Regions from separate parts of the Homo sapiens genome. Here region 2 is linked to region 1. Evidence: fine-mapped expression QTL. A gene starts in region 1. The other region holds a variant in brackets. All regions are shown on one strand. Distances are between the middles of the regions.

Evidence for each region. PIP is the estimated chance that this variant, and not a neighbour inherited with it, causes the effect.
Region 2: its variant is fine-mapped to the expression of GDPD3 in whole blood (TOPMed, PIP above 0.99).

What each region holds. Positions count from the first base shown.
Region 1 is chr16:30,110,481-30,115,838 of GRCh38, reverse strand. It overlaps GDPD3 (glycerophosphodiester phosphodiesterase domain containing 3), which reads left to right and starts at 2,302. Exons shown (of 10, transcript NM_024307.3): 1 at 2,302-2,499; 2 at 2,775-2,817; 3 at 3,046-3,181; 4 at 3,271-3,316; 5 at 3,415-3,533; 6 at 3,618-3,707; 7 at 4,318-4,451. The coding sequence starts at 2,361. It overlaps MAPK3 (mitogen-activated protein kinase 3), which reads left to right. Exons shown (of 9, transcript NM_002746.3): 9 at 1,131-1,734. RefSeq lists a silencer at 2,037-2,331.
Region 2 is chr16:29,985,206-29,990,563 of GRCh38, reverse strand. It overlaps TAOK2 (TAO kinase 2), which reads right to left. Exons shown (of 16, transcript NM_016151.4): 14 at 4,986-5,351; 15 at 4,703-4,906; 16 at 2,171-4,299. The coding sequence ends at 2,584. Among named protein-coding and RNA genes, the nearest start is that of HIRIP3, 7.7 kb to the left of the region's middle. The variant A/C (reference allele first, on the strand shown) is at 2,397.

The DNA.
Region 1 (5,358 bases):
GGTTGCAGTGAGCCGAGATCGCACCACTGCACTCCAGCCTGGACTACAGAGCAAGACTCCATCTCAAAAAAAAAAAAAAAAATGCCCAAGGCTGCCCAGACTGGTGGCCCACCGAGTCCTCCAGCCCCAAATGTCTCTGCCTGTCAACACCTTGCATCCTCCAGCCCCACAAGCCATTCTAATCTCCTTCTAGGAACAGAACTGGCAAAGAGGCAAGAGGTCACTGAGGGCCTCTGTCACCCAGGTGAGGACCTGAGCCAAGCTTCAGCTCTGGGTGTGGCAGAAGCAGGTGGGGCCATGATTGCTTTGGGAGGGGCCCAGCAGCGCCCAGCCTGACCCAGATTGCCAGGCCTCCTCACACCTGCTGCCAGATCAGCAGTTCACATAGCTGTGGGGACCCCACTGGCCTGCCCCCACCCACGCTGCCTCCTTGCCTCCTCCGGTCTCTTCCTGTCTTCAGCCAGGTGTGGCCTGATAGAAAGAAGGCATGCGCACCTGGGCTCAAACTCCAGCTGTGCCACTTAGTAAGTGCTGTGTGATATTGGGCAAGGCACCTCACCTCTCGGCGCCTCAGTTTCCGGAGTCAATCTATTTATCTTTTTTTTTGGTTTTGTTTTTTTGAGACAGTGTCTCGCTCTGTCACCCAGGCTGGAATGCAGTGGTGCAATCATAGCTCACTGCAGCCTCAAAACTCCTGGGTGCAAGGGATCCTCCCAGCTAGCTGGACGAGCCATTGCAACCGGCTAATTTTTTTTTTTTTTTTTTGTGGAGCTGGGGTCTTGCTATGTTGCCCAGGCCAGTCTCAAACTCCTGGGCTCAAGCGATCCACCACCTCAGCTTCTCAAAGTGCTGGGATTATAGGCGTGAGCCACTGTGCCCGGCCGAGACAGTTCTAATAATGAAAGCATAAAGCCCTAAGCATTGTTCTAAGAGGTTTACATGTATTAATTCCTTTAATCTTACAGCAGTACCTCAAGCTAGGTACTATTATTATCTCCATTTACAGATAAGGAAACTGAGACCCAGCCTATCCAGCTGTGAGGGTGAAATGAGAGATGTTGAGGTCAGGGCTCCAGTGGGTCTGCCCGGGGGGTGCTAACGACTCCTCTTCTGCCTGCTTCTCTCTTTAGGACCTGCCTCCTGCCTGCCCCTCTCCCGCCAGACTGTTAGAAAATGGACACTGTGCCCAGCCCGGACCTTGGCAGCCCAGGCCGGGGTGGAGCATGGGCCTGGCCACCTCTCTCCTTTGCTGAGGCCTCCAGCTTCAGGCAGGCCAAGGCCTTCTCCTCCCCACCCGCCCTCCCCACGGGGCCTCGGGACCTCAGGTGGCCCCAGTTCAATCTCCCGCTGCTGCTGCTGCGCCCTTACCTTCCCCAGCGTCCCAGTCTCTGGCAGTTCTGGAATGGAAGGGTTCTGGCTGCCCCAACCTGCTGAAGGGCAGAGGTGGAGGGTGGGGGGCGCTGAGTAGGGACTCAGGGCCATGCCTGCCCCCCTCATCTCATTCAAACCCCACCCTAGTTTCCCTGAAGGAACATTCCTTAGTCTCAAGGGCTAGCATCCCTGAGGAGCCAGGCCGGGCCGAATCCCCTCCCTGTCAAAGCTGTCACTTCGCGTGCCCTCGCTGCTTCTGTGTGTGGTGAGCAGAAGTGGAGCTGGGGGGCGTGGAGAGCCCGGCGCCCCTGCCACCTCCCTGACCCGTCTAATATATAAATATAGAGATGTGTCTATGGCTGACCCTGGCTCTGTCTGTGTTCGCGACGCCCCCGCCCTGCCCCGTGCGGCTCTGAGGACAGACTTGACTTGGGCTTTCAGGGGCCTGGTGCCCTTCACTCCCAGCTGCCCAGGGCTGGGGACGGGGCTCTGGAGAGCTCCAGACTCCTAGAAAGAAGGGGGTCAGTTTTCCCCTTAGTCACTGTCCTGTCCTCTCGCTAATGGCTTCCTGTCTAACTGGCTGGGGGTGATTCGGGGTGACTCAGGAGCACCCTACACACCCCTGGATCCTCTGAAATGGCAAGGGGTAGGCATGTTGGATGCGCTGGCTACAAGTACCAGTGAGAGGGAGAGGTCCTGACAGTCCTGGGTGGTTTTTACTCCCCTCATGTAGCCCAGGACGGGGCTGCTGGGGGCTGGGAAGGGCCTGGGGATATGAGAGCCAGGGCTACTTGCCTCACCTCCTGACACTACCCCAGCTTCAGCCGAACCCTGCAGCCTGGCTCCAAGCCAGCCCAGCGGCAGGCTCAGCAGGTCCCAGGGGCGTGGCAGTGGCCAGTAGTAGAGCCGGCCCACACTGGCTAGGCAGGCAGCACAGTCCCGCGGACGGCTGAGCGTGTGGCTGCAGGAGCTTCTGTGGGAGTACGGTCATGAGCCTTTTGCTGTACTATGCCCTCCCTGCCCTGGGCAGCTATGCCATGCTCTCCATCTTCTTCCTGCGCCGGCCTCATCTGCTGCACACGCCCAGGGCTCCCACCTTCCGCATCCGCCTGGGGGCCCACCGAGGAGGTGAGCCGGGTAGGGGTGAGAACAGGTGCCAAAGTGGACAGCACAGAGGGGTAGGTCCAAGGGGGCATGCTAGAAACGGGGCAGGGACCAAGAGAGAAGGAGAGCGAAGTGGCAGGGCAGGGTGTGGACGAGGAAGAAGATGCTGGCGCAGCCTGGGCTGGCTGGGGAGGTGAGGCCAGAGGGAGGATGGAGCCCAGAGAGGGAATGTGGGTGATGAGGTTGGGCCAGGCCCCTAGACCCCAAGCCCCAGAGGCCCACTCCAGTGCCCCCCACAGGATCTGGAGAGCTGCTGGAGAACACCATGGAGGCCATGGAGAAGTGAGTGTATCTGCCCCTGCCCAGGCTGCCATGTGAGGGTGTGCAGGTCGTGGACTGCATCACAGCAAGGGACGCCATTCACTTCCTAGCTGGGTGACTGGCGCCCCCTGGAGGTGGCCTGCACATCCCGCCACGAACTCCGCTCTCACATTCCCGGCCACCTCCCAGCCACCATGCCCCTCATCCCAGTCCCCTGCCCCTGCCCCCCGCTGACCTTCACCCCCACAGCTCCATGGCCCAGCGCTCGGACCTCCTGGAGCTCGACTGTCAGCTGACACGGGACAGAGTGGTGGTGGTGTCACATGATGAGAACCTGTGCCGCCAGTCGGGCCTAAACAGGGATGTGGGCAGCCTGGACTTCGAGGTGGGCCCTGCCCTGACACCCCAACCCCCACCCTGAGAGTCACCATGCCCAATGCGGGCCTCTAGTGACATCCTTCCTGTCCTCCCCAGGACCTGCCCCTCTACAAGGAGAAGCTGGAGGTTTACTTCTCTCCAGGTGAGAGCAAGGGCTTCGAGCCCTGCCTGGGCCATGCCTGCCTTCCTTGGACCTCCGCCTTGGCTTCCCTCTGACCCCTTTTCCCACACCACCCCCAGGCCACTTTGCTCACGGGTCAGACCGGCGCATGGTTCGTCTGGAGGACCTGTTCCAGAGGTTTCCAAGGACACCCATGAGCGTAGAGATCAAAGGGAAGAACGAAGAGCTCATCCGTGAGGTGGTGCTGCAGGCAGGGCTAGGGCGGCCACCGGGGGCGTGAGAGAGGCCTGGCTCTCCCTTCACCTCCTTCTCCTCCTCCCAGATAGCAGGCTTGGTGAGACGCTATGACCGTAATGAAATCACCATCTGGGCCTCGGAGAAGAGCTCGGTCATGAAGAAATGCAAGGCTGCCGTGAGTCCCCCCACCCCTCCCCCGTCCTCTTCCTCCTCCAGGGGCCCCTCCTCCCCAGAGCTGGAGCCCACCCAGCATGGGGACCCGAGCTAGAGGGGTCTGGGAGAGTTCCCAGTGGCGTGGCGGTGGCAATGAAAAGGGTGTGAACTCAGGCCTCGAACACAGAGCCAAGATGTGACTTTTGTTTTTTTTCTTTTTTGAAACACAGTCTCTCTCTGTCGCCCAGGCTGGAGTGCGGTGGTGCGACCTCGGCTCACTGCAACCTCTGCCTCCTGGGTTCAAGCGATTCTCATGCTTCAGCCTCCCGAGTAGCTGGGATTACAGGTGCACGCCACCACGCCCAGCTAATTTTTGTATTTTTAGTAGAGATGGGGTTTTACCATGTTAGCCAGGCTGGTCTTGAACTCCTGATCTCAGGTGATCCACCTGCCTCAGCCTCCCAAACTGCTGAGGTTACAGGCGTGAGCCACCACACCCAGCCCCAAGATGTGACTTGGATCCTGCAGGTAGTAGGGCCTCTGGAATGCCCACCACGGCTCCCCTGCAGCTCATGCCTCCTCTCTGCTTCCCCAGAGCAGACAGATTCTCATGCCTCTCCTTGCCTCCCCAGAACCCCGAGATGCCCCTGTCCTTCACAATAAGCCGAGGATTCTGGGTGCTGCTTTCCTACTACCTGGGGCTGCTGCCCTTCATCCCAATCCCTGAGAAGTTCTTCTTCTGCTTCCTGCCCAACATCATCAACAGGTACCAGTGGGGGGCGGACCTCAGAAAAACTCCCCACTGCTTAGGGTCTCCGTGGAGAAGGAGCCCAGATCTTCCCAGCTCCCCAGCTCCCCTCAGAGATAACCCCCAAGGTCTTTTAAGGACAGTGGTTCTTACCCAGCATTCATGAATACTAAGGGAACTGTGAACACCCTGAAATTCTGTGCATATGTGGAGTTTTAGGATAGAGAGGTAATTTATCCATCTCAGGCCATCTAGCATATTTTATTGAATGTCTACTCTGTCCCAGGTGCAGTTATAATGTGTAAATGAGACCAGTGAGGGTGGGGAGAGGTCCTTGGTGAGCTTACAGTCTGGCTGGGGAGACATTCGTTCATTAATTATAGCACGGCTGTCTCAGACCCTCAGCAGGAAAAGGCCAAGTCAGTGTTCTGCAGGAAGGCAGGGGTTAACAAAGTAACAGCTGGGGAAAGGATCAGGAATTTGGATACTTCGCTGGCACTTAAGCCTAGTCCCTCCCTTTGCTTTACAATTTTTTTTTTTTTTTTGAGACAGTCTTGCTCGGGCTGGAATGCAGTGGCCAGATCATGACTCACTGCGCCTCGACCTCCTGGGCTCAGGAGATCCTCCTGCCTCAGCCTCCTAAGTAGCTGGGAGTATAGGCGTGCAACACTGCACCTGGCTAATTGTTAAATTATTTGTAGAGACAAGGTCTCACTATGTTGACCAGGCTGCTCTTGAACTCCTCAGCTCAAGCGAGCCTCCCACCTTGGTCTCCCAAAGTGCTGGGATTACATACCTGAGCCCCTGGGCCCGGTCTCCCTTTGCTTTCTGACAGCTTCTCTGTGGTAGTCCCAGAGCTCTCTGCTCCCCTCTGTTGTCCAGAAGGAAGTCCCACTCAGCCCCCACAATACCTTGCTACAAAGAG
Region 2 (5,358 bases), 130 kb after region 1:
TAGCAAAATACTGGAAACAACCTAAATGTCCACCAATAAGGGATGGGTTAAATAAATTATGGTACAGCCATACCATGGAAAATTCTATGCTGTAAAAAAAATGAGACAGGTGTACTGACAGGGGAAGATGTCCAAGAAATATTAAGTGGAAAAAAGAAGTTACAGAAAGTAAATGTAAAGTATGATTCCATCTGTGTTTAAAATTCATATAATTTTTCAAAATGTGCACTGAAAAAACACAAAATACAGTTAATTATTAACAAGTTACCTGGGAGAGGTGGGACTGGGTGAGAGAACAGCCTTGGGTGGGGCGTTTCCACTCTCCACCCTCTCCGCACATTTTAAGTGGCCCATTCCAGTGTTAGGTGTGATCATTTTTTTAGAACAGCAACTTTCAAAATCCTCCAGAAGTCTGAGTAAATGGGCTTGAGGGCCACACTCACTTTAATCTGCACCCTGTTTACCCATTAAACTAACTCAGGCCCAGGAAAAAAATAATAGCCACTCTTTTCCTTGGTGGTTCTTGGGAATAGGCACATGGCTTTGTCAAGACCTTAAGAAAATACTAAGAGAAAGAATAAAACCACTGAGGAGAATATGAAATAAATCATTGTGGAGAACACGAACAGAGGGAGAGTATGTGAGTTTCCCAAGTAAAAAAGCCCCAGCTCTGTGCATGCCCTGCACCGTCCATTTCTCTAAAGCAAAGTACAGAGCCTGGCCTCTAGCGCACTCCCTCCCTGGACCCCAGGCCTCACCGCCTGTGAGCTGAGCATCTCTGAGATGGACTGGTCATACTGCTCCGCCAAGATCGCCAGCTTGCGGGTCTGCTCTTCCTTGAGCCGCTTAAGGAGGCTCTTGTGCTGAGCTTTGGGCGTGGTCTCCAGCAAGTGTGCTCGCAGAGCCTTGTACTGCCGAGTCTGGATCTTACACGTCTCCTGGAACTGCTTCTTGATCTGCAGCTCCTTAGACTATGCAGTGGACGGATCAAGGGGAGATGGGGGCAGCGGGGAAGAGGAGGAGGAAGAGGAGGAAGAGGAAGAGGAGGAACAACCAGGGGAAATGGGGAGAAGAGAGAGAAGAGGAGAGGAGACAGAAGCAGAGACAGGGAGAGGGAGAGAAACAGAAAACATGTTAGACAGAGGGGGTGGGGGGAGCTGTATACAGACAGACAGACATGGAGAGGTGGGATCGTGTTGAGAGAGATCAGGAAGGTCTCGATGGGCAAGAGATGCAGAGAAGACAAGAGGTTCCAAGAGCACGTGCACGGAGTTGGGTGCGATACCCACGAGAAAGAACATCGGAGTTACTGGACAGGGAACTGAGGATCTTGGAAGCTCTGACCAGGCAAAGAGGGAGAGACTGTGACCTAGAGACAGAAGCACGTGAGCAAATATGAGAACGTGCACGAGAACAAGCGAGAAGAACCAGTCACACAAAACACCCATGAAGAAAGCAACACGACTAAGGACAGACACAGGAAGTCCCAGGTCCAGCAGCTCAGGGAGGAAGGCAGGGAAGGAGGAGAAGCACCGAGCTGAGAAATGGGTAAGAAGGGGCTGCCCCATTTTGGGCCGCAGAGGAGAAAGGGGCAAAGGAGGTGGCCAGAAAGGGCCTGACAAGTTCAACCGGCCAGCAGCTACCACCCTGACCAGATCCGCATTCCAGCCCGGCCCCTCACACACTCAGCTCCCACTCCAGGCCCACACTCAATCCTGCTGCCACAGCCTTCATACTCCGCCTGGTTGCCCCCAGCTCAGCACCCCCTACTGTGGAGGGTCTGCAGCCCCGTCCCCCAACCCACTAGGGTAATGCCTGATGCAGGAGAGCAATTTGGTCCCCTGCAGCCATGGTTGGGAGAAAAGGCAAGGGATGAGGAGACCAAGGGCCTGGAAACTAAGACCTCTGGAAGGAACCCGCAAACAGGCGCTCTGTGGGACCAAGAAGTTCGGTGAAGTTCTACAGGGGCCCAGACCCCAGAGCCGGTGGTGGTCATGGTGCAATGAAGCTATGAAGGCAGAGAGCATGAGGCTGGAGGAGTGAGGGGGCTGAGATAACGGAGATGGGGTGAAGAGGTCATGGAGCCGGGCCGAGGGTCAGCCTGGGGGCATACCGGGGAGGCTAGGCGGCAGGACAAAGCAGACAGAGGCAGCCTGGGCCAAAGGCACAGTTCCGCTCAGATATTTTATTTGTGTTTGTCTTTTTCTTTTTTTGGTGGGGGGAAGGGGACAGGTTGGAAGGGAGACAGAAAAACAAAATCAAAGAGGAGAAAAAAAACATGACTCTTCCCACCCTCCACCACCCCTGGCCCCAGGCCTGAGTCAATGAGGGTGAGGATGAGCACACACAGCGGGCGAACAGCAATAACTTAGGGGAGGAGCGCCAGGAGAACACAG[A/C]GTGACTGCTGGACTCCACAGCTGAGGAGGCTGCCTGTCTAGAGGTCCGAAGGGCTGGGCCTGGGGTAAGTGAGCAAACTGAGGAAGGTGGGTGAAAAGAGAGGACTAGGGACTGGAGAAACTTCACTGAGTCGTGGGAGATAAAGTGCTCAATGCTCTAGATTTGGGCTGGAAGGGCTGGAGTCAGCTACCTCCAGGGGGGCAGGGCCCGGGACTGGCGGGTGCGTGACCTCCGCCCGGCTAGAGTCCCTGGCAGTGGCTGGCGGGAGGCAGGGGGCCCTAGCTGGCGCTGGCTGCGTGGTAGTAGCCGGGGGATTCGGGTGGGCCGTTCACCCCGAAGCAGGCCCCAGCTGGCCAGTGTGTGGATGGCCCACGGGGGCAAGTGGGATGCTAAACCCTGGCTGGCCCGTGCCAGACGCCAGTTCCAGCCCTTGCACAGGACCCAGACCCTTGCCAACAGAGCTAATGGGTGTTGGGTGGTGCGGGGATTACGCCGCCGGGGCCCAGGGACGGGCAGGCGGCTGCGGAAGCCATCCTTGTTGGTTTTGGGGTACAGTGCAAACAGACCCCGGTCCCCCACAGCCCCACAGCCCTGCAGGGCCCGGAAGGCCATGGGTGACAGGCGCAGCAGAACCCGCAACCAGAGTCGAGATATGCCCCGGCGCACCCGGGGGCCCTGCTGCCGCACCCATCTGCCCCCCGCTGCCATAGCCACCAGAGGTAGAGCTAGGCCTGGCCAAGCTAAGAGCCAGGCAGCTCCAAGGCCCAGGGGAACACCCATGAGGCCTCGGCGCCAGCTCAGGCCCAGGACGGCCCCCAGTGCGGTACCCTGGGCCAGGAGTAGGAAAAGACTGGAGGGCAGGTGCAGGGCTGTACAAAGGAGCAGGTAGGAGGCCCCCAGACCCACCAGCCCCACCTCAAGGGCCAGCAGCGCTGCCTGCAGGCCACCCCCACCCTGGGCTGCCAGCAATGGAAGCAGCAGCAGCAGCAGGAGGGGCAGGAGGCCAGAGGAGGACCCCACTGCAAAGGAGAGGCCGGCCAGGAGGCCATGGGACAGGAGTCCAGGGAGCTGGCTGGCAGGGCAGGGCCTCAGGTGTGTTGGAGGGGGTTCAGGAGGGATGTCGGGGGAAGGACAACCATCTCCAGGATCCCTAGGGGTCCCAATCGGAGCCCCCTCTTCCTCTTCTTCCTCCTCCTCAGGGACGGGAGTCAGTGCTGGGCCCTGGACCCAGCCAAGCTCAAACTCCTCATCCAGAAGACTCTCATCCTCCTTCCCCCACAAGCTCCATGTCCCAGCCTCCTCCTGGCCAACAATGCTCCTCTCCTGGGGTACAAGGGAGGGCACCCTAAGCTCCTCTATCTCCTCAGGCAGACCCCAAACTTCCTCATCAACCAGGCTCCCATGTTTTTGTGGACTGGGACTAGGGGCTCCTGATTCTTCCCCCAGAATCCTCTGCTGCTTGGGCTCCAAAGTGGCCCCTTCCTTTCCCAGAATCCTTCTCTCTCCAACTGCTTCCTCCTCCTCGCCAAGCATTCTTTGGTCCAGGACTGCCTCCTGGCCAGGTGAGCAGGGCTGCTGTTCTATAGGGGTGCCTGTGTTGGGTGGGCCCAGAGCCCCAGGAATGGGGAGTGGAAGGCCCGGGGGGCGCTGGCCTGCACGTACTTTGAGGCTCTTGGGCTGCTGGCGAACCTGGGCCGCATGCTTCTGCCGCAACTCTTGCTCACGCCGCTTGTTGTACTCCAGCTGGTTGCCCAGCTCCGTCTGGTGCTGCAGGCGGGTGAGCTCAGCCCGCGTGCGCTGCACGGCCTGGAGCTGCCGCAGCTCCAGCTCCCGCGTGGCCTCGTGCTGCCGAAGCAGCAGTGCACACTCCAAGTCCTTCTGGGTCTGCTTCTTGTTCAGGTCCTGAGGCAGAAGAAATGCAGGGCCCGGGGCCTGGTCAGTATCAAGGAAGTGAGAGGCCAGGGCTCCTTGGCAGAGGGAGCTGGGGATGGCGGAAGAAACACAGGGCCCAGGGCCTGGTCAGTATCAAGGAAGTGAGGGGCCAGGGCTCCTTGGCAGAGGGAGCTGGGGATGGCAGGAGATGAGGGTGTAGGGGAGGCAAGCTCCTCCCTGGCCTGGGAAAAGAGGCCTAAGGAAATTCTGGCAGGGTCTGTTGGGGATGAGAAGTAAAAGGGGCACTGAAGCAAAGCTGAACTGTAACACTCGAGGGCCAAGGAGAAAGAAGACAAGAATGAGGAAAATGGAAAAGGGTGGGTCCCTGGGATCCACGAGTGAGCGGGAGGGGAACAGAGATTGGGATGCCTACCTCCCGCAGCAGGTCCTGGTCCAGGCTGTGCCGAGCCAGCAACATCTTGCGCTTGTACTGGCGACACTGCAGCTCAAAGTACTGGCGCTGCCGCCGCAGCAGCCCTGCTTCCTCCTCCGCCTGGCACTGCTGGAGCTGCTCCTTCTGCCGCAGCAGCCACTCGGCCTTCTCCCGCTTGGGAGTGCTGGGGTTCTCCTGGAGCTCCTGGGCGAGTGCAGAGGGAAGCAGGGTCAGGACCCACCTGGCTCGCCATCGGCTCCGCCCCCAAGCAGCCCTAGCTCACCTCCTTCAGCTGTTCCTTGCGAAGTTTGTAGGTCCGCTTCTGTGCCTCCAGCAGGGCAGCCAGCTCCTTCTTCTGCTGCCCAAGGATGTGCTGCTGGAACTTCCGCTCCTCGGCCTGGGCAGCTCGTGCCTCCTTCTCACCTATGGCCTGGTGCCGCCGGGCCAGCTTTTCTGCCTCTGCCCCAAAGCCAGCCCGCTGCGCCTCAAGCTCCCGCTGCAGCCGTGCACTGTGCTCCTCCCGTTCACCCCTCAGCCGTGACTCCAGGGCCAGCAGCTGCTTCTGGTGCTGTCGTCGCATCCGCTTATAGCCGCTCAGCTGCTCCCGCAGCGCAGAGTCCTGCTCATGCTCCTGGATCTGACGGCTGACCTGGGGA